Linked DNA regions of Homo sapiens: regions 2 and 3 are each linked to region 1. The links come from fine-mapping of genetic effects on gene expression. A gene starts in region 1. Each other region holds a variant in brackets. All regions are shown on one strand. Distances are from middle to middle.

Region 1 (8,184 bases):
CACTGGACTCAGACACACAAACAGGAAAGAGACAAAGCATTTCCTAGTCTCCCGGATTCCTTCAAATACTGTTCCTTAGGGAAGGGGGAAAGTGATTTGACACGGCTGTAAGGAATAGTCCCAGTAGCAAATTCTGGATTTCTACGGCCAACCATCCCCTTTCCCTACTTTCTGAAGGAAGTAATAGAATTGACAGTGCTCTGTGCTAATGGTGGTATGGGAAGTCTGCTGAGGGGTCCTTTCATTCAACTCAACCCAGTAGTAGACTAGTAAGTGCAACTACAGTAAGCCAAATTCTGAAAACAAGAGGTGGTTCTGCAAGTTATTTCACAGCTAAACATCACGCCTAGCTATAATCTTTATATTAAAGGTAAACACAAATCAGTTGCTCATTCCAAGTTTGGGTTTTCATCCCCTTTGAAACAACAAAGAGTGTACCCACTTCAGAGGCCAGTAAGGAATTGGCCTGCCAGCCCAGCCCCAGCAAAGGAGCTGCTGCAGATAAACAGTGGTTAGCTCTGAAGTCATCCAGACAGAGGACACTTTTACATGACCCCCTTTCTCGGCTTATACCATCACTTCACTTCATAAACACGTCAAAGTTTTGAGGATAGTTTTAGAAACCCAGCTAATAAAGCTGGCTTGTTAAAAAGAGTAAAGCCAACTAATTACCAAAGACAGACAAAAGAAATATTAAAACTTTTTTTTCCAAGAAAAAGTTTTCTCCCTTAAGAGATATTGTACAACAGGGACACTAGGGCCAGTGGGCCCAGAGCTTTCTTGAAGTTCACTGACAATTTCACCCACCCTATGCTGCAAGTTGCTTTTCTAAGACATGCCAATTTGCCAAAATATTTAACTGTTTACTAATTAGTGAGGAACAGTTGAAGGCTGGAAGAAATGAGAAGGAAATGGTTTAGGGAAAGAGAAAGCAATGCAAGAATTGAATAGAGCAATCAATTATTTACTGATACTTACAGATTCTCAGAGGTTTTCAGAGATATACAAGGCCTCAAGGGCAAGTAGGGAGATTTGGCACCAGGTCCCCAATCTTCTTGTCAATAAACCAGAGGCTTACCTCTTCACTGTTGGTGGCATACTTGAAAAGCAGATTCCTTGGTAAGGATGCCTCCGCCTGAACCGAAGTACCGCCATCAGCACCAGAATCCCAGGGGTGGTCGTTCACAATGTATGTACACTTCTCTTCAAACTCAGCCTCTGTCCACAGAGTCATATCCGCATCCTCCATGTCCATTTTCATGGTCCCCTTGGTCCCCTCTGCCAATCCCTGAAACCTCACAGTGCTGGAGTTACACTTGGGGGCAGCCTGGAAGAGAAAGGAAAGGCCTTTAATCCCCATTGTCCCGCCGTTCCTGTGGCTCCTTCTGAGAGGCTATGACTAATACAGTAGTCTGAAGACTTTAAAAGCAGATGCAGAGTGCTTGGTACAGTTGAGAAAGAGCCAAGAAGCCGTATAAAGTAAACTGCCTTGAAAAGAAGCAAGGTTTTTAAATGCTACTCTTAGTTAAAAAAAAAAAAAAAAAAAAGAATGTGGCAACCTCACTGTGGGGAAAAGGAAAAAAAAAAAAAGAATCACCTCTGAACAATCCCTGGCTTTACCTCTCATGGCAGAAAAATGTTCTGGGCACACAGTCCAGTGTCCCAGAATGCCTGGGGTCATGGCCGCCAGACCCTCGGCACTGTGGAAAAGCTGCCTCAGAAAAGTGTCACAAACAAGGAGAGGAAGAGGAAGGAGCTCTGTCTGCCTCTGAATGAAGCTAAAAATGGAAAGCGCGTGTGGTGCAGGAGCGGAACCCAGCCTGCCTTTTCCAAATGGGGAAGACCGAACTTTCCCACCAGCTCCCAACGCAAAACAACTTTCAAAACAACTGCCTCCTCCCTCTGCTGCGAGCTCTCTTTCATCCTCTCACATGGAAGACTGAAAAGGGTTGCATCCTGCCAGCATCACTGAGCTACGGCCTCTTAGAAATCACTTGGACCACAGGAAAAGAGGAGGAAAAATGGGTGAAGGGGAAAACAGCCTGCAGTGTCTTCTGACTTGCAAGCATCTCATACCAAATTGAAAAGGCAAAAACAAAACATAAAACCGTTTAATAAAATTCCCTGGAGAGAATTCCTTTAGGAGTCCTCAGCTACAAATAGCACTTTCCATTTAAATCTGAAAGTGTATGAATTCCCAGAAGTCACTGATGTACTACAGTTTACTGTAACTAAAGTTATAACAAATTTAGAAGACTTGGAGGACAAGCTCTGCTTCCACTTGTACATTGATGAGGATATTCCCCCAAAATCCTCCCTCACACTCAGAAAAAAACTGTTTTCCAAAGGCAAAAAAAGGTAAACAACTTCTGTAAGGGTTTTCTCATATAGACATGTTTGATAAAAATGAGGAATATGGGTATCATTTCCATGTAAGAATGTGTGTTTGTTCAAATGTAAACATAACATTCTGTGGAAGTCCTTCAAGGAGGTTTTTACATTCTTCCACTTCTCTAAATAGGATGCTCTTAAAAAAAAAAAAGTTGGATGCAAAGTTGTTTTTCCCTCAGTTATGATTTAAGCAAACCTGCTTATTTTTATTTAGTTCCAACATGTAGAGTCATGACGCCAAACACATGTTAAAAATAAAATAAAATAGAAAACTTCAGCCAACCCGGAATAGTTTGACGAGTGTGAGCTGGAACCACTACTGAAATTTCAATGAATTGGCAATTATGTCTAGAACTGAAAGGGTTAATGATTCATAAGGAAAGTCTCACAAATGTTTGACAGCACTAAGTGCACTAAAGCAGAAGCATGTTTCTACTGCGACATTAGCCAAAAAAAATTAATAATAATAACAATAAAGGAAAAGAAAATAAAGTTTTCAGATCAATTTCAGAATTAAAAAAAAAAAATTCAAGTTCCTTACCAAGGTCGTACCCACACGTTTTTCCAAGCAAATATCCAACATCTGAGAAAAGTCTCGTTCATCTCTACCCAGTCCACATTCTCCCCGCGTCCCCCGCCAGGCTGAGCCGCACAGACGCGCACCTCGGCGGTCCCTCCTCGCTTCGTCCGGCCGCCCGGGCGCCCGCGTCCCAGCTCCGGGCGGACAGGTGCCGCGGTCGCTGCTCTTGCCTCTCCGCAACACTGGAGGGCCGAGTGTCACGGCAGCACTTTGTCTGTGTTAACCGTCTGGCTTCCCCTCCCTGCTTAAGATTTCCTTAGCCACTCGGCTGCGCGAAGTGGGGGCGTGGCCAACGTGGCCAACACCACCTGGCCGAGCCCAGGGCTTTCCCCCAGATTGCTAGCACAGCCGCCGAGAGCTTCCTCTCTTCGCATGTGTATTTCAACATTGACTTGGAATCTTCTTACTTCCCTTTGAAGGCACTTAACCTCAACGCTTACTTGGGCTCTATTGTATTCTAAACACTCCAGATCGCCCTCCTTCCTGGCGCGGCAGAATTAGGGGGCGCACGTTCCTTAAATTAAGGAAACTTAAAATTTACCTACACAGTTTCTGATTTCTCAGCTCAAATCCCCAGGTACAAAAGACACAAATCTTACTTCAAAAGAGCAAGTTAAATTGTTTTTGCAGCTAGTGTAATACAGTGGAGCTGTCTGGTCCTCAAGCTGTTGTGTATGTAACGCACGTTTCCCCGCCCCCCGCCCCAAAAGTTGTAACATTCCGTTTCTCCTGCTAACGTTCAAACTTGGCAGAACTAACTTTCCTCTTTTAACTATTTAGTAAATAGGGAAATAGGCAAAAGTTATAATTCTACAGATTGTTTGTTTTCCTTTCCTCTCCTCCCAGAACCCACAGGCTGACTTCCCAGGAGTGTAAGTAAAATGTAGAGCATTAGTCGTTTCACAGTTCAGAGGAATATTGAACTGATCACTGCAAGTGGAAAGCGGTCGGAGGCAGTAATTAGTGGGGCTTATTCTGAGCCCCGGCCAGCTTTTCCTCCAGCCCAGTCAGTCCTCTGTTGAAGGAAGGACATCCTGTGATGATGGCATACAATGTCCTGTTTGTTTATTATTAAGAGCGTGGACCTTGCATTCCTGCTTCTCATTACAAAACAAACCAGATGCTTTACTTCCTTCAATGGTCTTGTGCCTTCAGCAAGGAATCCTTTAATTCAGAGAAACAATGTTTATAGCAAACACCCCATTTCAATTATTATTTAGATCATTGAAATCCAGGTCTTCCATTTTTCCTGCTTGCCTTACCATAGGTAGGTTTTTTTAAAATCATTTCTCCTTCGACCTGCAATGTCTTTTCTAACATTTTAAATACACGTGTGCACACACATCCACCCACACACACACCCACATACACACACCCAGTTCCAACCTAATGATACCAACTTAGTCATACAATGAAATGGACATCTGAGTATTTGTTTACAGGAAGAAATGAAACAAAGCAAAACAAAAGCCCAACTCAATCCTAAAAAATATGTCTGTTTATCTTTAAAATTTCTTTTCTCACTTTTAGAAAACTTTTCTAGAATTTTTTTTAGGGGAGAGGGGGAGAGGCAAAAGATTATTTGCCAGGAAATGGTGTCTAAAGTCTTGCTGCAATCTCTCTCTCAGTACAGAACAATTAAATTCCCACTAGGGGACATGATTAGCACACACTCGCTGCTTGCTGCGTGGCCCACCTGTGATTGCATGTTATGCCAGAGGGGACGCTAGCACCAAGAGGAAGCAGGACTTTTAGAAGGCAGATCTGCTGGGGGTGGAAAACTGAATGAACAATTCCTAAGAGTCCTCAGAAAGCTCCAAGCTGATAATTAAACAAGAGAAATCCAGCCTGCTCAAGAGGGTTTATTAACTGATGCTGAGTCAGCACCACAATGGACAGAAAAACAATGTAGTCATACTGAAGGCTGGCCTGCTGTTCAAACAGTCTCACTTGCAGATGTTAAAGAGTATTTCACTTCCCTTTTAGAATCAAACTCTGTTCTTAGGCCACATACACCATCATGCAACTGCTGGTGAGTCAACCATGATAGAGTAAGGGAATAGGCAAAAAGTTTGATATTTGAGGTGGGAAGAAGGCTATTTTAAGCCAAATATTTGCTTTAATGACTGGAAGATGCCAGTGAATCAACTCACTGTTAATTAATATCAGCCTGCACTCACCTTCAGAGGTGGTGAAATGGGCTTGAGTCTAGGGAGGACGCAAACTTCAAATACCAGTGTGGGGCTTAGCCAGGCAACCCTAAAATTAGTTCCAGGTGTCCCAGCTGAGCTGGACAAGGCCACGGGTAGAACTTTAAGGAAAGTAAATTTTCAGACACAGAGTGTTGGAATGTAAAGTCCTTCACATGTTTGCTTCTTGTCTCAAAGTGATTGGGAAAAAAAAAACCTCCAAACCAACTTTTGACTATGATTATAGTAGTCAATGATGGATATCATCATTTAAAATGAAAGCTACCAAAAAGGAAGAAGAAATAAAAGAAAGGAAGCTTGCTCCATAATAGGAAAAAACATGTCCATATTGTAATATTTAGGTATTGTCCAGCACAAAACCATTAAGGGGGAATAAAAGGGACTGACCTCTGAACTTCACTCGGTCCTCCCAGAGGGCCTGAGCAGTGCACCTTTTTACTGCTGACTAAAGCTGGGAGACCCTGGCAGCAGTACAGCTGTGCAGAGAGAGCTATCAGAGGCTGCCACTGTCTGGAATCTTATGTCTCAAAGGGTTTGTTTCTAAGTAATAACTTGGTGCATTTTTAGTCACTATATTATTTCCCCCCAAGTTAGAACACCGAAAAGAACCTCAGTTATCTTTATTAATCAGCATTTCTCAGGCAGAGCTCTCACATTAAAAGTGTTCACAATGGCAGCAAATCATGAATGAGCCAAATAGTTCTGTTCTCAGAAATTCTCATCTATTCCCGTGGATGGCATCATCACAACAGTTCCATCAGCCAATTTTAATTCGGTTTCAGCTACTGGGCCAGTTTTTTTCCTCTCCCAGTTCCTGGGTGGATTGGGAATTGCAATGTTGGTGGCCAGATGACTCTATAGGGAAAGGACTATTGTAGAATGAAGGGAAATTGAGCACCAAATCTGGAGACCTGAACTCCACTTGGGGAAAAAAAATTTTTTTTTTCGAAAGGAACTTTTTTTTCCTAAGGTAAAAAAAAGGGATGAAATGTACCCAAGATGAAACATGTTTTCATTTTCTCATTCAACTCCTGCCATACCCAAACAAGGTCAATGACAGGCTAACCACATCAAGAGAATAACCCCCCCACCCTCTTCTTCCTACTCCCTACCACCCACCCACCCTCACCCCCCACACCCATTTCCCGCTTCCTGTAAGTTAGGCATCTTCATGCTGGTAAACATTTGGGGACCAACTGTAAGCCTGAGCCTGAGAGAGGGGCACTGAGGCTTTGAAGCCCTCCCACATGTCTCAAAGCCAGGCTGAGAACTAGAGGGACACTTGGTTTTTAAACTTTAACAGCCTTTTCAACTCAAATCACTGGGCTTGGCCTTCTGGCTGCCTTCCTTTTTAAAAGCCGGACAAGAAGAGCGAGTATGTGTGTATGAGTGAGAGAGAATATATGTATGACACATGCTATGTTACAATGCAGCCTGTGTGTGTCATTGGTGTGATATGTGTACGATATGTTTCGATGATGAGTTGAATCAATTTAAAAATAGCACAAGCTTCCTTCTCATGACACAGCTCACCTCCCAAAAACTTTTGACAAACATATTCAGGGCCTAAACATTGGGACGGTGACCTTCAGGGGCTGTTGGATGTTTTGGAATGAGGTCAGTGTTTTGACTTCCTACATAAGGGAAACAAAAATTAAGTAAATTCAAGAACACAAGTAGAGCTCCCTTCCCACCCTAGGAATGAAGATGTAAGTGTTCTCCAGAGGACTTTATAAAACCCACAGGATGTCCAAGGTCTCAGAGTATTTATAGAACCACCTGTATCATTACATCTAAGTATTAATATCTTTTTTAGCCCTCCCTTCAGAAAGACAGTTGTATTCTCATCTAATCATTTATATATGATTTTAAAATTATTTTTTAAACTATTCCTTTAGTTCAGCATCTACCAACTTAATAAATGATAATAGCAATACTAATCATTTCCAGATGACTTGTGGGGAAACCAAGGTTTGGGGTTTCCAAAATTTGCTTTCCCTTCTAATTATATTTTTATCATAGTGAATATTCAGACAGAAGAATTTTAATTTCTGAGAAGTCTGTGGGAAAGAACAGGAGAAGGAAGATTATTTCAGAACTCAGAAGACACTTCCTAACCTTACAGCTGGTGGGAAAAAAGGAATAATCCTAAAATTAAACTAACAGAAGGCAAAACCTGAACTGTTAACAAGGGAGAAAAAGAGCAATAGGAAAGGTGTCCACTCTGAAACTCATCTCTTGTCTTTATTTGGAGAACCGGAAGAGTAGCTTCCACACAAATGAGAGAGCAAGACTGTGGGTCAAATGTTTGCTTCTCTCACCTTTCAGTGGGAGGAGAAGCCATTCTGGAAGAGGGGAGGACTCAAGGTGGAAATAAAGGGAAGGTCGCCAAGAATAAGATTAGGGAGGACCAGTTGGCTTAAAAATGAAGGTGAAAGGCTTCTATGGAGGATGAGCAGGAACAGCAGCAGAAGACCCAGTGCAGGGAGGAGCAGTCCCCTTGGAAGAGGAAAAGGGACCCTACAGTTGTACCTGCCACCGTGTGCTTCCCTGAAATCACAGAATATTAACCAAAGGACACAGGTGATTTTATTTAAAATGGGACTGACGATTTCTTCTCATCCTTTCTAAGGGAAGAACAAGACTGTAGAGGCTTGACTTTCTTCACGCCAAGGTAAGTTAGGATAGAAGAGACAGAATCATAAAGGTTAATAGTGAAATCATTTGACCACCCCCAGCCCCCAACTCCCATTCTGCTCCAAAGGGGATTTAGTATCCAATCTAAGTCGAAGACCATATATCCCCTTCTACACTTCATTTTCCTGCTGAGGAAACTGAGGACCAGAGGTCAGGAAGCAGAAAGGGCATCTCTCCCAGACTCTTTTTTGGTAACTGGATCTTAACATAGAACTGTGAACCTGGGAAATGCCAGCCCACAGGCAGGGCTGCAGCTCAGGGAGCAAAATCAGAACTTGGTTCTCAGATTTCCAGCCAAGCTCAGGG
Region 2 (8,184 bases), 270 kb after region 1:
ATTTCTTTTTGTTTGATTGAACTTTAATGACTGCTTTAATCCTTAGAAAAGATTGGAATCTCCAAAATTGAGTGATAAGGTTTAACAGGGCAGAATCTTTTTTTTCCCCTGAAGAAATGCTGACAATTTTTCTAGTTTCAGCATATTCCTTGCCAAGGTTCCTGTTTACTGCCACATCTGAGACAAAATGGCAACACTTCCTGAAGTTCCATACTGGGAGTAGAGATCTTGAACATGTTTTCCTTCTGGCAACATTTTCTTCAATTGCTTTTTGTAACGCCTGCTCTTTTGATTTCTCTCAACCTCTCTAGTCTTTCTCTTCATTCTTCTTTGAGAGGACAATCTCCGTCATATATCTGACGATGTGTATTTCCCACAGAGTTTGTCTCAGACACTCTTCTCACTCTATACATTCTCCATGGGTAATTTTATCTGAACCTATAGCTTCAATTATTATCTATATGCCTATGATTATCAATTTTGTATGTCCAGCGCAGATCTCTCTCTACACTCCTGAACAACTCTGCTATTGCTTACCGAAAGTTTCCAGTTGTAAATATGAAATGAACCCCAAACATGCCCATTCAAAACAGGCCTCACAGATTTCCCACACCTACCTTAACCTCACCCTACCTGCTCCTCTGCTTTCTATATCTGTGAGCAGTTATCGAGTTTCCCACACCAAACACTAAGCAATCATCCTTGACCTTCTCATACTCCATGTCACCAAACCTTCTATGTTGCTATTGCTTAAGTATCTTCCAAAACCTATTTACTTCTCTCCACCTTCCCCTAACCTAACCTACCTTCATGTCTGGCCTGGAAAACTACAATGGTCACTTCATTTTAGCTTCCTTCCAGTTTCCCACACAGCAGCCAGAGTGATCTCACTGTTGGAACAATAAACAAAATCTTTCATGTGGGTGCATCTTACTTCCCCTACCACCTCTTATGCCATTCCATCCTCATTCTGAGCTTCAGCTCCACGGGTCTGCTTTCAGTTCTTTAAAATATTATTATCCTTCTGCTACAGGGCTTTTGCACATGCTTATTTCTCTAAGTGGACAATGCTTTCTCCTTTTTAAAAATCTTGTCTGCAGACAGATCGGCTGAAATATCAGTTCCCTAGGGGAGCATCCCCAGCTCTCCCATTTGGTCAAGTTTTTTTCATGACACATCCGTGTAGCAACTTGTTTCTTTCCTTCAAAGCTCTCGATTTGGATTTTCATAGTATTTGTCTGCATGTGATTTTTTTAAAGCTGAAAATGTATCTCCTTCATTTGATTGTATACTCCGTAGTACTGGTTCAGTATTCGCTGAGATAGATGTACAGGATTCATGTATACACAGAGTTTTGTACCTAGTAGGTCCTTGATAAACGTTTAGAAATACAATTAGTTTGCGGTGAGTTTTGCAGTGTAAAATGATCATAATTGAGGGAAGGAACAATGGTCACTGAGCAAGCTGGGATTTCTTTTTCCATTCAGTGCCCAAAGGTCACTCTTATATTTACTGCTCCATGGAAGGCAAGGAAGTGGTATCTCTTCCTGGAGCTCCAGCAAATAGAAACATGCCATGAATGTTGGCAGGAATGGAGACTTTAGGGAAGAGGGATTGTGGTAGAAAATGTCCTATCCTTCTAGCACCTGGTCCTTAGTAGTGATGCTCAATCCCTCCCATCAATACTTTCTAAGCTTTAGCAAGCCTAAGAATCAACGGGAGGACTTGTTAAAACTCAGATACCTGTGGCCCACCCCCAGAGTTTCTGATTCAGTAGTTTGGGGGTAGGGCCTGAGACTCTGCATTTCTAACAAGTTCCCAGGGGATGCTTCTGCTGCTGCTGCTATGGGACAACACTTGGGAAACTGCTACCCTGACTAATTCTAACATGAAACTCAGTCCCAAATTAGTTCCCCATGATGGAAGACCTCCTGTGCCAGCAACTGCTTATTGACTCTAATATAAAGTTTATATGGTCAAAGAGGTAGTCATTGACTGATTTTCATTATGTTACCAGTACTAATACCTCTGTGGGATATTCCAAATAAGTTAACATGTTATTGGTCGCTGAGTTTCTAAGTGTTTTGAGAAATACAGCATAGTAATTATAGTGTGTGAAAAAAAGGAAGAAACCCAGGTGATCTTCTGTTTGGTACAAACAGCAGATGAGTAATATGTACAGCACTTTTTGGCAGGGGCAGGCTACCCACTATGGAAGCTGCAGCAACCCAGCTGGGAGAATGAGGGATGGGGGAAGGCCTAGAGGTGAGCTCAGGTAAAAGCAGCCATTTGTGGGTGAAATAAAATTTAGTCTAGTAGTATCTTAGTTTGGAAGTCAAAAGATCTGAAAGAACATGAGGTACGAGGATGACAGTGTGATTGTGTGTACAAAGCATTGGCTAAAGAATGCTTTGAAGAAGAGCCCTGGCTCCAGTCTGCTTTGGTAATGTACTCAACAACTCTGGGCTTCAATTCCTTCAACCCATCAAAATGGGGTTAGTCTAGATCAAGGGTCAGTGAATTTTTTCTATACATGGCCAGACAGAAAATATTTTAGGATTTGTGGGCCATACCCTCTCTGATGCAGCAACTGAACTCTGCCATTGTAGTATCAAAATAGCCAAAGATACTATGTAAATGAATGGGCTTAGCTATGTCCCAATAAAACTTCATTTACAGAAACAGGTGGTGGACAGAACTTGGCCCAGCATCTTAAATCAGCAGTCCCCAACCTTTTTGGCACCAGGGACGGGTTTCCTGGAAGAAGAGTTTTTCCACAGGGGAGGTTGAGGGGGGTGATTTAGGGAATGAAACCGTTCCACCTCAGATCATCAGGCGTTAGTTAGATTCTCATAAGGAGTGTGCAATGTGGATCCCTCATATGCGTAGTTCACAATAGGGTTTGCGCTCCTATGAGAATCTAATGCCGCTGCTGATCTGATAGGAGGCAGAGCCCAGGCAGTACTGCTTCCTCACCCGCCGCCCACCCGTGTGGCCCAGTTTCTAAGAGGCCATGGACCAGTACTCCTATAAGTAACAACAACAACAAAATTTAGCATGTATGCTTAATGGATGTATACTAATTTATAAATATGCATCTGTAAAGATCTAATATATTATGTACAGTACAAAACACACCCCTGAAACAGAAGTTTAAAAGAAATATGTTAAAATAAAGAAACAAGTGATCCAATATTTTCCCTAAATTCTACTGGATCTTCTTATGTGGAGGCCACTCATCTTGATAGTTTCAAGGGCTGTTTGACGTTTTAATGTCCTATTGTTATATGTGTGGCAAACCACCCACACTGTACATCTGCCAGGTGATTTTTGGCTGAATCAACTAGAGCGTTAACTCCGGGTAATCTGTACTAACAGGGGGAAGAAGAGAGGCAGGCAACTAAAAATACAAGAGCCAGCTTAATGTGATTTTGGAGCAAGTCCCAGTGCTCAGCGGCTGGGAGCCC[C/T]TCTGGGCGTGGGTACTCGCCACGGCCGTGGCTGCAGTGGGCTGGGAAATAGAGAGGGTAGTTTGAGTGGCTGTGGATACGTGAGTATTTACATGAAGAAAATTGGTCATGAACTTTTAGTTGTGAAAGGAGCCTTCAAAATCTGTTAGTTCACCCGCTTCGTGTTTCAGATGAAATCTTTGTATCTAGAAAAACTTCTGTGATAGCTAGTGAGAGGCAAAGCTGGTCTCACAACTCAGGACTTGAAACATTCTCACCTAAGTCCTCAACAGGAAAAAATATTTTTCTTTGTATTTCTTTAGTGCTTTTCATTTTAGAACAAATCTGTTTTCAAAGCATTGTGAAATTTTGCTACAATAGCAAAAATTGTTCATCTCCATGTGTAAGTGAACATTTAAATGACTGTACAGTCCCATGCACATGAGCGTTCCTGGAAATGGGGAAGGAGTACATGTTTTGGGGCTTCTTTTCTGGTCTCTCACGTTACTTTAAACTTGGAGCATGTGGGCACCTGGGGCCTGAAGAAGATACATCACTATACTGGCAGAATGCTCTAAGAGTACGAACAGTCGTCAGCCTACTGTGAATGTAGTAGTGTTTGCAATGGAAAAGGAATGGATCCTGAATTCAATATTTTCCATATAATTTTATGCAAATGCTTTTATGAATTCCCCTCTTTGAAGGAAGAAGGAAGAGGGAGATACTGCCAGTGGGGAAAGTTTATTAGCAGTCTTCCAAAGCTACCCACCCAATTGGCGCTGGTTCATGATACATTAGAAAGAGGAATTTGGAGATTTATTCTATGGTGAAGGGATTTGAACTCAGAATAATCTGGGTCCCCAAGTGGATCTAGTGCCTGGTTCCTGTCCTCAGGGGATTCGAAGAGGATTTTGAGTATGGTCACTAAGGTGGACGCTGAAGGATGCTGCAGGGAGTTTGTGTGTTTTGAGTAGGAATAGACACAGTGCTGTGGTGTTTCAGTAGATCGTGGGCTCTGCCAAGGACTGCACAAGTGGGTCCTGGACTGGGAGAGGCCAGGATGGCTGTGTTGCACAAGGCGAGAGAGTGAGCAGTCTGACTCCCTGGTGAGTTACGTGCAGCTTGTGCAGGAAAATCTGGTGTCCTGATTCTGCTGGTGTTTCTGCACAAATTCATTTGCCAGTCTCTTCCTTTTTGGATATGCTTCTGGGCATTACCCTTTCAGAAAGGTTTTAGGATGGAAGTCCCCAAGGGTCTGTTCCCTTCCTCTAAGTTAATATTTCCATGGTAAGAAGTACAAAAATTTTCTGTGTAGGTGGATACCAGAAGGGTTTGTCTTTTTTCTCTCTGCCCTCCCCTCACTCCCTGAAAATGATGACAAACATGCTCTCTCTGCAAGATTTTCTGGCACCAAAACACTTGCCCATGCCATCTGATCCTGCTGTCTTGTTGGTTCTGTGTTTGCAAATCTAGCAAGCTAAACCCACTGAATTGCTGATCTAGAGAAGTTTTTAAAGTGCCCATCTTTCATTCCCTTTCTGTTACTTCTTATAGAGATTTATTTCACTCATTATTCTTTCCTGTACCTTGGTGGCTAGTTTTGCTTTGAGTGCAAATTAGAGAGTATTTTCCCCCTCTGGCTTCCATTTTTAATCACTCAATGAGAGCATATGTCAGAAATATTCCGTTTTTAAACTTCACCAAAGAAGCAGTGATTTTGGATGCATGTAAAAGAGGAGAAAAAAGTAAGAATAATCAGAAGATTCTTTACAATGTGAGAATTTGATTAGATATAGTTTTGTCCTCACTTTCCCTTTGAAAGGCTAAAACTTTGCTGCAATTTTAAGATTATTTACCCCTTTTCATTTTTTTTCTTTAATGTCTAGGCTAAAATTTCCTCTTGCTCTCATATTTGAATATGGATTCCTACTTTAGGAAAATCACAGCTGACAAAATTGTCTCAAATGGCATGATAATCTGGTTCTCTGCAATTTTCCAAATGCAAAAGTTAGCAGGTGGAAATCATTGAAATGCACCCAGGAGAGCCCACTGCCCCTCTTGGAAGACTGTGGCTTTATGTGTTCAAGGCTGGTAAAAGGTTGGCCAGATTTGAACCTCAATGGTAAGTGTGAGAGGTAAACATCCTCCTGAAGCCAAACTGAAGAGTCATGCTAGGGAGGTGGGGAGGGGAGGGTTTTCTAGGAAGTGCTCCACACAGAGCTGATAGCATTTTCCAGGACAGAAAGTAAACAGGGGTTTTGTGTTGGTCTTTGAATACAGAACTGGTAAAAGCCACAAACAGAAAAACAAAAACTCTCCCAGATGAAGGTTCTAGTAAAAGACTTGTTATCTACCTCCATGCAAAAAAGAAAAAAACCCAAAAAACCCAATGAGAGTAAATAGCACCTTCAATGACTCTTCAAACGCTTCATTGCACACCTGAGTTGGTTGATTGAGTTTCCTTAGCAGGTCTGAGGGACATTGTTCCCATTCTCAGGGGATGACCTAAGACCCTCAAGGTAATTGAGCGAATTGTCTGCTCCTGAATGGAAGCCTTCCTGTCCATGAAAGTTGCCCAAAAGCTAATCACAGGTGATGTATGGGGACCGCATTCCTTCTAAATGCACCTTTCTTTTTAAGAGGGTGTTTGTACCTTTGGCTGGAAAAGAATGCTACCTCCTACCCCTACTTCCAGACTATTCTGTACAGCTCAAAGAAACTTCATCTCTTCAAGTCCTCACCACGCTGAAGGGGACTTGGCAGCTTTCTGTGCACAAGTGAATTTTTGTCATATTTATCCAAGTATGTCAGGTGTAACTTGTCATCTTCCAAAACAGAGATGTAACTTGGACATTTAATTCTTACATTTAACGTTGTGGAGGATTGAAGATATGGTTAAATGACCAGGGTCCTCATTCATCGTTTCTGTCTCAGGATGATCACTGGTCTAATGGGATTCCTTTCTTTTTGGAAGGGATCCACTTCTATTGTGACTCCCTGAGCAAGAGATGCATCATGTATCTTGTGTTTTTTCCAACGTCCTCACTGTTTCTGTCAGGAGAAGTCTCACACATCTTTCTAGGTCCGTTTAAATACTCCCTCCTCTACAGTAGGTTTGGAAGAACACTATCATCATATTTTTCTTAAGCGTCTTGTATCTCCTCTATTAGATGTCAGGAACCTGGAATGCCAGGACCAAGGCTTTTTATCGTTTTTGCACTTATCTCTCCTACCTACACCCCAGATAAGATATGATAATTAGTGCTTAGTTAAAGCTAATATTTGTAAAACACTTCACCTGTTACAAAGTGCTTTCACAGAGATTCTCCTACCTAGTAATATGAGTTGAATTGAAATTAACTGAAGTAACTGAATCACTCAATCCCATTAGGGAGTGGAGGCCTAGGCAGAGGAGGAGAAAAAGAAATGGGACTAGGGAAGGCAAGATAAATGCGATGAAAACACATACAATAGGGAGGGGCAGAGTGCCACCAACAGCTATTTCCAGGTTATACTGGCCCCACTAGATGGCTCGTTCCTGCTACTCCAGGTGGACTCGTTCTCAGCTTCATACCAAGAACTCCAGCCTTAAAGGCAGAGTTGGCTTCTGCAAAACTGGAGAGATGGACTGCAGAAAAAGAGAAGTTTTTTTTTTTTCCCTGATAAGAAGGATGCCACCAGGAAGAATGCACATCATGGCTACAATCTTGTGGTTTGTTGTGGTTGTTGTTTTTCTCCTTCTGCTGAGGGAGTAAGCAGGAATGGGGTTCAGCTAAGCCCCATGAAAGGCAAGAGATTTTCCTTTCTGCCAGGGAGGCCCAGGAGAGGCAGCAGAGCCGGGGAGGACTGGCAGGTCCAAGGTGTTCTTGAGGTCCAAAGGAATTGTGACGCTCTGGATGAGAGCGGAAGGAAATAGCAGTGACTGGAAAGAACTTTCTTAAATCAAAAAAAGAAAAACCAGACTTCAGTTCAGTAGTGGTTGGTCAGAGAGAGCAAGATGGTTTACTTGTGATTTTTTATAGATCTCCAAAAATTTACTCTGAATTATATCTCAAGCCCCTAAACTTTAGGAAGTATTTTTCTATTACTTTAATAGCCATGTTTTTAATATTAAACATGGACACATGTGTTTTATGTTTCTATAGGAAAAGGATAATTTAATAGGTCTTTTTCTATTCCTGCTTCTCCCTGTACCTACAGTTGAAGAGTTTGACTGTATGGTTGACTTATCACAAGCAGATACCAGGATGCCAAGTAGGGTTCTGAGGAAGAACCCATTAACTTTGATCTGACTGTCCTTGCCCAAAATAAGCTTGCTAACATAATACAAATGTCTTGGCTCCTCATACCCAACGCCACTTTTCGCACATGGGCTATGTTATTCATTTTAGTTCTGTAACATTTTTTAAAAATTTTTATTTATATTTTTATTTTGGGGGTCCATGTGCAGGATGTGCAGGTTTGTTACATAGGTCAATGTGCGCCATGGTGGTTTGCTGCACCCATCAACCCATCGCCTAGGTATTAAGCCCAACATGCATTAGCTATTTTTCCTGAAGCTCACCCTCCCTCAACCCCACACCCCATGTGTGTTGTTCCTCTCCCTGTGTCCATGTGTTCTCATTGTTCAGCTCCCACCTATAAGTGAGAACATGTGGTATTTGGTTTTCTGTTCCTGCATTAATTTACTAATGATAATGGCTTCCAGCTCCATCCGTGTCCCTACAAAGGACATGAT
Region 3 (8,184 bases), 210 kb after region 1:
AACATCTATGAGGCAGAAAGTGGGCTCTCACCAGACACTGAATCTGCTGGCGTCTTGATCTTTTACCCCCCAGTCTCCAGAACTGTAAGAAATACATTTCTATGGTTTCTAAGCCACCCAGTCTATGGTATTTTGTTACAGCAGCCTGAATGGAGTAGACCAGAAGTTTTCATCTTATACAAGTTGTTTTATTGGTTCAAATAGAGAACCTATTTCTTTGGGAGTTTATTTATTAGTTCTAACATTTATTTGTGATATAGGATCAGGAGCTTCAAAGACTTTTTTGCCTATGATGATGACTCACATGAAAAGGCTCACTATCAGAAAGGCATATGAATGGTTTTGCTGAATTTCATCACTTTTTCTCTACAGATTAGCTTACAACCAGTGGCGAGGTACCCAGACAACTCACCTTGCACGTTCAGGTCACTGGTTCCCCGCTGGCCTGGATAAAAGAATTTGGCTGGGTTAGTAACATCTCGGTCTGTGACTCAGGAAGAGCTGACACCAAGTGAAGGCAGGTGACCCACACAACAACCAGATTTAAGCCTCAAGGCCCACTGCCACCAAGCGTTAACCAAGGGAACCAATTGACTGCCGACTCTGGATAGGTAGGGTAAAAACTGGAAGAAAACGAGGCTAGGTTAATCAGTTTCCTCTGAGAACATGAACCCTGTCCTTTCTGAAAGATTTTTAAGAACTACAATTGAGATTGTGGACAGTCTGCAGTGGAAGTTACATTTGACCACCTCTAGACTTGAGGCTGTTATTTATATGAAAGTCTATTTTAATCAAAGGAAATCCTGTTTCACCAGCAGCACTGGCAGCCCTGAGACGCACGGTCTCAGGAGTGTTGTGAGGATACAGGCTGTCTTTAATCTCAGAATAAAAATATTTGATGTTTACAAGGTGTATTAGTGTAATTGGAATGTGTCTGCCTGTCTGCCGGCCTTCCTTCCATGGTGGGACCACGTAATTAAAGAGCATTGCGTTCATGTGGCTGCCTGTTTATCCTTTCATAGCCTCTCGGTAAGTAGTCACGGTCAAGACCGTTACCCTGGGCTCTTAGAGAGCTCATCCAGGCAGAGACAGCTGCAGCCAGAACAAAGGGGAGGCTGCACTCTGCTTGCAATCCTTCTGAGGGCTCTAGGGCAAAGTGGGATGAGACAAGTTTAACTTGGTGGATAAGAGACGCCTGGTATCCCAAGAAACTCTCAGTGCATGCATGGGATTATGCCTTGAAAAATGTGTGTAGGTGTATATATTAGGTTGGTGCAAAAGTAATTGCACAGCCTTTGCCATTACTTTGAATGGCAAAACTGCAATTAATTTTGCACCAACCATATATACACACACACACACATATGTGTATATACACCTACACACATTAAGGTCTATCTATCTTTTTTGTTTGTATCTATCTCTATCTATATGTATATCTTTCTCTGTCTTCAAAAAGTGATTTTTTTTTCTTCAAGTAAAAGTCAGAAAAGGAGATACTCACCCTTATCTCTTCGTGTATACCTAATTCCACGTTATGTATTCAAGTTCTATTCCTAATGCCTCAGGACTTTGCTAGTTGGAGCCTTGTGGGTCACATGAGCACTAAGAACTCAGGTTTCCTAAGTGAGATTCTACATTTATTCCTATCTCCTGTAATCTTGGAACTTCTAAGAGAGCCTGGCTGAGAGTAGGTGCTCAATAAGTATGTATTAAATGAATGAATGAATCTCCCTGTAGTGTTCTAATGAGTGAATGAATCTCCCTGTAGAGTCCTCCTCTTGAATTAGTCTGGAAGTCCCCAGGCAGGGTGTCTGCCATGTGCTCAAGTCGGTCTATTAACCACAGCCACCTTGTGACCTCTGGCCCGTTCTGATTCTCCCACCCTGGCTCTTCTTGTTGCTTGAGGGTGTCTGGTGGCTGTGGCTGTTGTTGCCCTCCCTGAGAACCTGACCATCTGGGCTGCATCACCATGCTTGCTGTCCTTCTAGCCCTGGAGCTGTATGGCCTACAGATTCATGGGCCCTCTCAACTCTCACTGATTGCTTCCCTCGTAGAAGCCCAAAAAGTCTGTGGAGCTGGACAAGGAAATGTCTCCACATCTTTCTTCCCCTCCATGCCCTTGATTCTCTCACTCAAGACTGAAGGATTCCTGGCACAAAAATGTCTCTCTTTCTTGAGCTTTAAAGCAAAAATGTCCTTATCTCAGCATTTTTCAACCCTAGTTAGATAAATTATATACCCAGACCTCACCCCTAGATACTTTGATGCAGTGAGTCAGAAGCAGAGTCTGGCATTCGTATTTTTACAAGGCTCGTAGGTGATTCTGGGGTACCGACAATTGAAATTTTGGACAGTCTGCGGTGGAAGTCAAATCTGTGTTGTGAAGCGCACTGTCACAGGTGATCAACTCTTACAAACAGACACCTGGGGACATTGAGTTGGGCTCAGCAATGATACTCTGCTAGAAAATGCAATCTTTAGAAAGGCAAGGATAGGCTAGGCACAGTGGCTCACACCTGTAATCCCAGCACTTTGGGAGGCCAAGGCGGGCAAATCACTTGAGGTTAGAAGTTCAAGACCAGCCTGGCCAACATGGTGAAACCCTGTCTCTACTAAAAATACAAGAAATTAGCCGGGTATGCTGGCACGCACCTGTAATCCCAGCTACTTGGGAGGCTGAGGCAGGAAAATCACTTGAACCCAGGAGGCAGAGGTTGTAATGAGCTGAGATTGCACTACTGCACTCCAGCCTGGGCAACAGAGCAAGACCCTATCTCAAAAAAAAAAAAAAAAAGGAAGGCAAGAATAATTAATATATTTTAATTTGCTTGAACAGCACTATATCTAGATGAAGATATGATTAATTCTTTTTTGTTTGTCATGTTAACCTAAGGGTTGAAATTGCAGCAGAAGTACTGAGCACTGTCACTGGAAGCATTCCAAGAGATGTTGAGTGGTCACCCATAATAGATGCTGCAGAAGGGATATCTGCATATGGCTGCACTGACTCTAAGATATGGTGATTCAGTTCAGTGATATAACACCTATTTACTGAAACCCTGTTGTGTATTTTGGGGCATACAATGAATAATTAGATATGCACTCTGCCCCCAGAGAGCATAGAATCTATTCTCCATTGATTCATTCATTCACTGTGCCAGGCAGTGAGTGGTTAACTCTTTACTGAGTTACTTCCTCAGCGGGAGGCATCTGAACAAGCAAACATACCACTTACCTGAAACAACTGTCAGGTTGGGTAGAGAACGTAAGTGTCTTATGAGAGTTCTAGGTAGAGTGCTCTGGGACTTCAAAGAAAAAAAGTCATGCCTATGTAGTTGGGTTTGCCCTTTAAGACAAAAGTAGTAAAATTCAAATGCTAAATAAAATGCTCAGCTCCACTAATGGAATTTTTGCGCATGAAAAAAAGCAAGCTATAAAGGTTAAGATAACCAGACTGGCTGTATTTCTGTCCCTGCTGCTGTGGGGTTATTAACATCATTCTGTGCGAGTGAGTCCACCGGAGAGATGGGGTAGCAACTCTTTGTTCTTCCTTTTTTGTATCATTTCAGCCCTGAGAACAGCTCTTTACAGATGGTTTATAGAACTGAAATGAATTGAAATAACTTGTCAGCTGGTCTGTACCAACCCTAATAAAAGACTCAGAGGAACAAGCTACTGACAATTAGACAGTGTTTTCTATTTGAGAGTTGTTTCTAACAACCACAAATCTGAAGTGTGTCAAAGGAACAATTTTGTGATTCATTTGGGTAATGCTATCTTTCCTGGAATGAAAGGATTTCTTTTCATATAGAAATTGAAAAAGAAGTATGCCCTTATTTTGAACTTATAGTTGACACAGCTTTGTAAACAAGAACAGTTCCAAGTCGTGGAGATATTTTTCCAGTCTGCCGTCTTGTGATGAAGTATAGTGCAGGAAATAAACAGTCTTAAGAATTGGCCAAAAAAATGTTTCCTTGGGGGCAAATCACCCTTGCCCCAGATACCTACTTATCTCTGCTCACACTTCTTAGGATGCACTTGGATTGGCCACACCCATCCAGTACACATGGAACTTCATTGCTTTTATTGATTGATTGCTGTTTAAAGCTTTATTCCATTATTTCATATATGTATCAGACATGTAGCAAATGTATGTGAAAACAAGGCAGAATATGTTATACCTGTTATTCTAACTCGATTGTAAATGTTTGAGAGCAAGAACATTTCTCTTCAAATTTAGTTGTTTTTTTTTTTTAGGTACTCTTTGTTCCCCACTGTGTAGCACGAAGTCCAGCATCTCACGTTTATTATTTTGGAATAAATATTAATTATTATCTTGAGCAAATGGCTCTTTACAGTATCTGAATGTTCAGTACCATAGTCAGAAAACTCTGAGAACTTACATTTGCAGATGGTATTTGACATAACTGAAAATGTTTAAGAAACAAAAAACAAAAAGCCTCAAATATAAGCAATTGTGGATACTTATGATTCTCTTCTTAGTTATGCTTTTTTCCTTTGCATTTTTTTCCCTAAGGATGTATGATCACCGTTTGTTATTACTATGAGGTTTAGGGCATTATCCATTATTAATTCTTTTGAGATTTACTTGCTGCTTTTTCCTTGAAAGAGAGTTCTGGATTTTTGATACTTCCCTTTAGAAGTGAGGTTTCTTTGAATAATTGGGGCCTTAAGAAAAGTTACAACACACTGTCTTCAATCCATCCACCAGACTTTGCACGCAAACACCCTATTGACGTCAGCAGAACTTGGGTGAAGTTCTTTTTTTTTTTCTTTTTTTTTTTTTGCCTATCACTGGGAACTGGGGAGTGAGGGTGGTAGGGTGAC[G/A]TGCATGGGACTGGGTCTGGGTGCTAAGAATGAGTTGACTATGATGAAATTTGGAATGCTACAGTTTTCTAATAAAATTGAGTCTTGTGCTGTTTTCCCATTGGATAAGAAAAAAATATAGTCGGAGTGACATTTATTCCAGGAACTTTAAAAAATTTTCCATTATGTTTGATAGACTGTTTTATGAGGACTGGCCAGTGTTAAAAGATTTGGCATTTGATTTTGGAAAAGAATAACTCCGAATTGAATTTATTAGACTCTCTGAGTCTAGTCTATAAGTAGAGACCATGTGCCTTCTTATGAGCTGATGCTTCAACCCAGAAGATGTCACGTTCATAAGCATATGCATTTAAAATTGATGTCCCATGAGTTTCAGAAAAATCTATGGACCCAAACATTTTTGAGATACAAAACAATTCATTATTTGCATTCAGCATTTCCTAATCTTCTACCTTTCTTATTTAGGACTTTAATTCAGTGCTAAAACTTCCTATCCGACTACACTTGAGCAAATATCATCTTTCTTGAACTGTAACTAAAATTGTTCGGCTTGATTAGCAAATTTCTCTGTGTGTCTGTGTACCTAGGCTTGTATAGATATATCAAAGGTTTTAAATCTAGCTGGAGAGATAAGATAAGAACACAAAGCATTTATGAGAACGAATACCCTTTGAGGTGGTTTGAAATCTCAGTTTAATTGCAGTTTACAGACGAGAGGAGTGGTGATTTTCCGTAGAGGAAAGATTCATGGAAGAGATGGGACTTTTAGTGGATTTTAAAGATTTAGCATCATATTTATAAAATATCAAAAAGGAAAGAGGATGGGAAATTTTTAAATTAATTTTGGGCTTTTTGGGGTCAGCCATGGAGTCATGTGTAGACAGGGTTTCAAGTTGAGCTATGTCTTCTTAGATGATAGACACGTGCCTGTGAATTCTTATTAGACTGTTCCTTTTATTTATAGCTCCCATCTGATTGTGCTCATCGGGTTGTTACTAATACTGATAAAATTTGTGGGTACAGAAACATTCTGAAAAGAACCTTTTATAATTTTTTTTTGTTTGTTTTTTAGCGAACTGGAAGGGGAAACTGAACAAAAAAAGAGTAACCAAATACTGTGAAACCCCCAGATCTCTTGATCTTAGGCCAGGTGTCTATTGCCAATCTGATTAATTCTAATTATATTCAGCTTCATTTAAATTAAGTAACATGAAGGCTTTCTTACCCTTGTTCATTCAATTCAAGTATAGTTTTATATAGTTGACTAATCAACTGATGATTATTTATTGAGTAGCTATTATGTGCTTGGAATTTTCTTATATATCTATAGTTTAAGTTCTGCCTCACAGAGCTTAAAATCTTAGCAGTAAAAAATATAAAGCATATTGAAGTGTCAGTTAATAGTGTGATGCCGTAGGGGAGTGTCAGTAGTAGAAGTCCAGGAAAGAAAGACGTAAAAGACACCCAGGATAATTGGCGATGAAGAAAGTTTGTAAGGAGAAGAAAAAGCACTGTAGGCGATTAAAACTGTAGAGGAAAAGCTCTGAGGCAGGAGAGTGGAATAGAGAATGTGAAGGGATTAGAACTGATAAAGTGTTTTCCAAACAATTCTGACTTTCCTTGTTGTTTGAGTGTTCAACAAGGAGGTCTTGAAATAGTTTTATTTAACATTGTTTTGCAAAGTTTCCCTCTCTCTCTCTCTCCTTTCACCCACACACCCAGACATGCAGATGTACATATATAAATATAAAACATTAATTCTCTAGGTTATCTTTGTAGTTGACAATAGAGAATACATATCCTTACTGTAATTGGCAGAAAACATCTGTGATAGTTAACATTCTTAATTTTTAAAGATTTCAACTGTGAGGCTCTATTGGTACATAATCAAATTTTTTATTATTTTTAGAAATCTTAATAAATATTCTAAATCAGTGAGTTCCAAGGTTAAAAGTTTCATAATTTTTTTGAGAAAAGTCGAAGCAATCAAGACTTTTCTTTTCCTTCAGTAGACCATTTGGAAGTAAAAGTTAAAAACTAAGTATGAGAAATGCAGAAGTTCTAAAGGGAACTTGAAAATTTATTTTTAGACTATTAAACAGACACACTTTTCTTGGCTGGCCCAAGATCCATTGAGATAGTGCACATCCAGAGAAACTATAACCAGATCTAAATGATAGTTTCCAAATAACCATATAAAATATTTGCAGATTTATCCTCTTGGGTGAAAAGGCAGCCATTTCTCTTAAAACATGTTAAGAGAAAAGGGCTTTTCAAATGTTGATGTGCATAAGGGTCAGTTGGGTAACAATGCAGGTTCTGACTCAGCAGGTCTGAGGCGGGACCTGGACTCTGCATTTCTGAGAAGCTGCCGGTGATGCTGCAGGTGCTGGAATGTGAGCTACTCTTTGAATACGAAGGTCCCAGAGAACATCAAAATAACCTCTGGTGCTATCGATTTATGAGTACATTGACATTTATTTTATTATTTTTATTGGAAAAATAAGTGCAGTGTCAGAGTGGAGAGGAACTTTTACACCTTTAGCATGGCCTGGCAATGTTGGCTATTCCCTAGATTACTACTCTGTAGAAAGCTGCACGTGGGCAGGGACTGAGCTACTTCTGTTCTTTACTGTATCCTAATGGCTACCACAGAATCAGTACTCAGTCAATGTACTGAGTCGAGTAAATGAATGAATTTAGTGTTGGCCCGCAAATGCCATTTAGCTGTATGCTTGTCCTTGTTACATAAGCAGAAGAATGTGAAAAAGTGCAACAGTGTTCTAGTCTAAAAAAAGGTCACTCTGGCCTTAAGAATTTATACTAACAAATTACAACTCAAACCTTGGTATTCTTGAATGCACAGCACAACAAAACCACTAACACGGAAGAGGCTGAGGAGAAGAAAAGAATCAGGGGTAAACACTACCTTTGTGAAGGACTCTTTTTAAGACAAAGTTCTTCCCACATACTTAAGGTCTCCCAAGCACTTTCCTTTCTGGTCCTTCTGTCCCATCCTGACCTAGAGCTTCCTCCACCCCTTTTTACTCTAATCTCTGATGCTCTCAGGTAGCCACTTGGCTGTGTTCACAGCCCTTTCTCCTGCTTGCCTTGCCTGTGTGTCCCCTGAGTTCTCCCCTGGGGCATTTCTGACTAAGATGACATGCCTTGTCATTTATTAAAGCAGGATGTAGCTCTTTCTTCCTGACTGCCATCTTATTACCTTAAAATTATCTTAGCATTGTAAGTATTACCTACTTAGCTACTTATATACCCTAACATTACCTTAGTACACTAGCATTACTGGAGTACTTAGTAGTACTTCACTTGGAA

What was found.
Region 2: its variant is fine-mapped to the expression of PRDM1 in cerebellum (GTEx, PIP above 0.99).
Region 3: its variant is fine-mapped to the expression of PRDM1 in tibial nerve (GTEx, PIP 0.95).

Annotation. Positions count from the first base shown.
Region 1 is chr6:106,081,344-106,089,527 of GRCh38, reverse strand. It overlaps PRDM1 (PR/SET domain 1), which reads right to left and starts at 3,192. Exons shown (of 7, transcript NM_001198.4): 1 at 2,933-3,192; 2 at 1,079-1,327. The coding sequence starts at 2,974. RefSeq lists enhancers at 2,845-3,564, 4,742-4,811.
Region 2 is chr6:105,812,714-105,820,897 of GRCh38, reverse strand. No RefSeq gene overlaps it. Among named protein-coding and RNA genes, the nearest start is that of LINC02836, 180 kb to the right of the region's middle. The variant C/T (reference allele first, on the strand shown) is at 3,468.
Region 3 is chr6:105,869,053-105,877,236 of GRCh38, reverse strand. All of the region lies in intron 2 of LOC105377923 (a long non-coding RNA gene), which reads left to right. Among named protein-coding and RNA genes, the nearest start is that of PRDM1, 210 kb to the left of the region's middle. RefSeq lists an enhancer at 6,912-7,413. The variant G/A (reference allele first, on the strand shown) is at 4,852.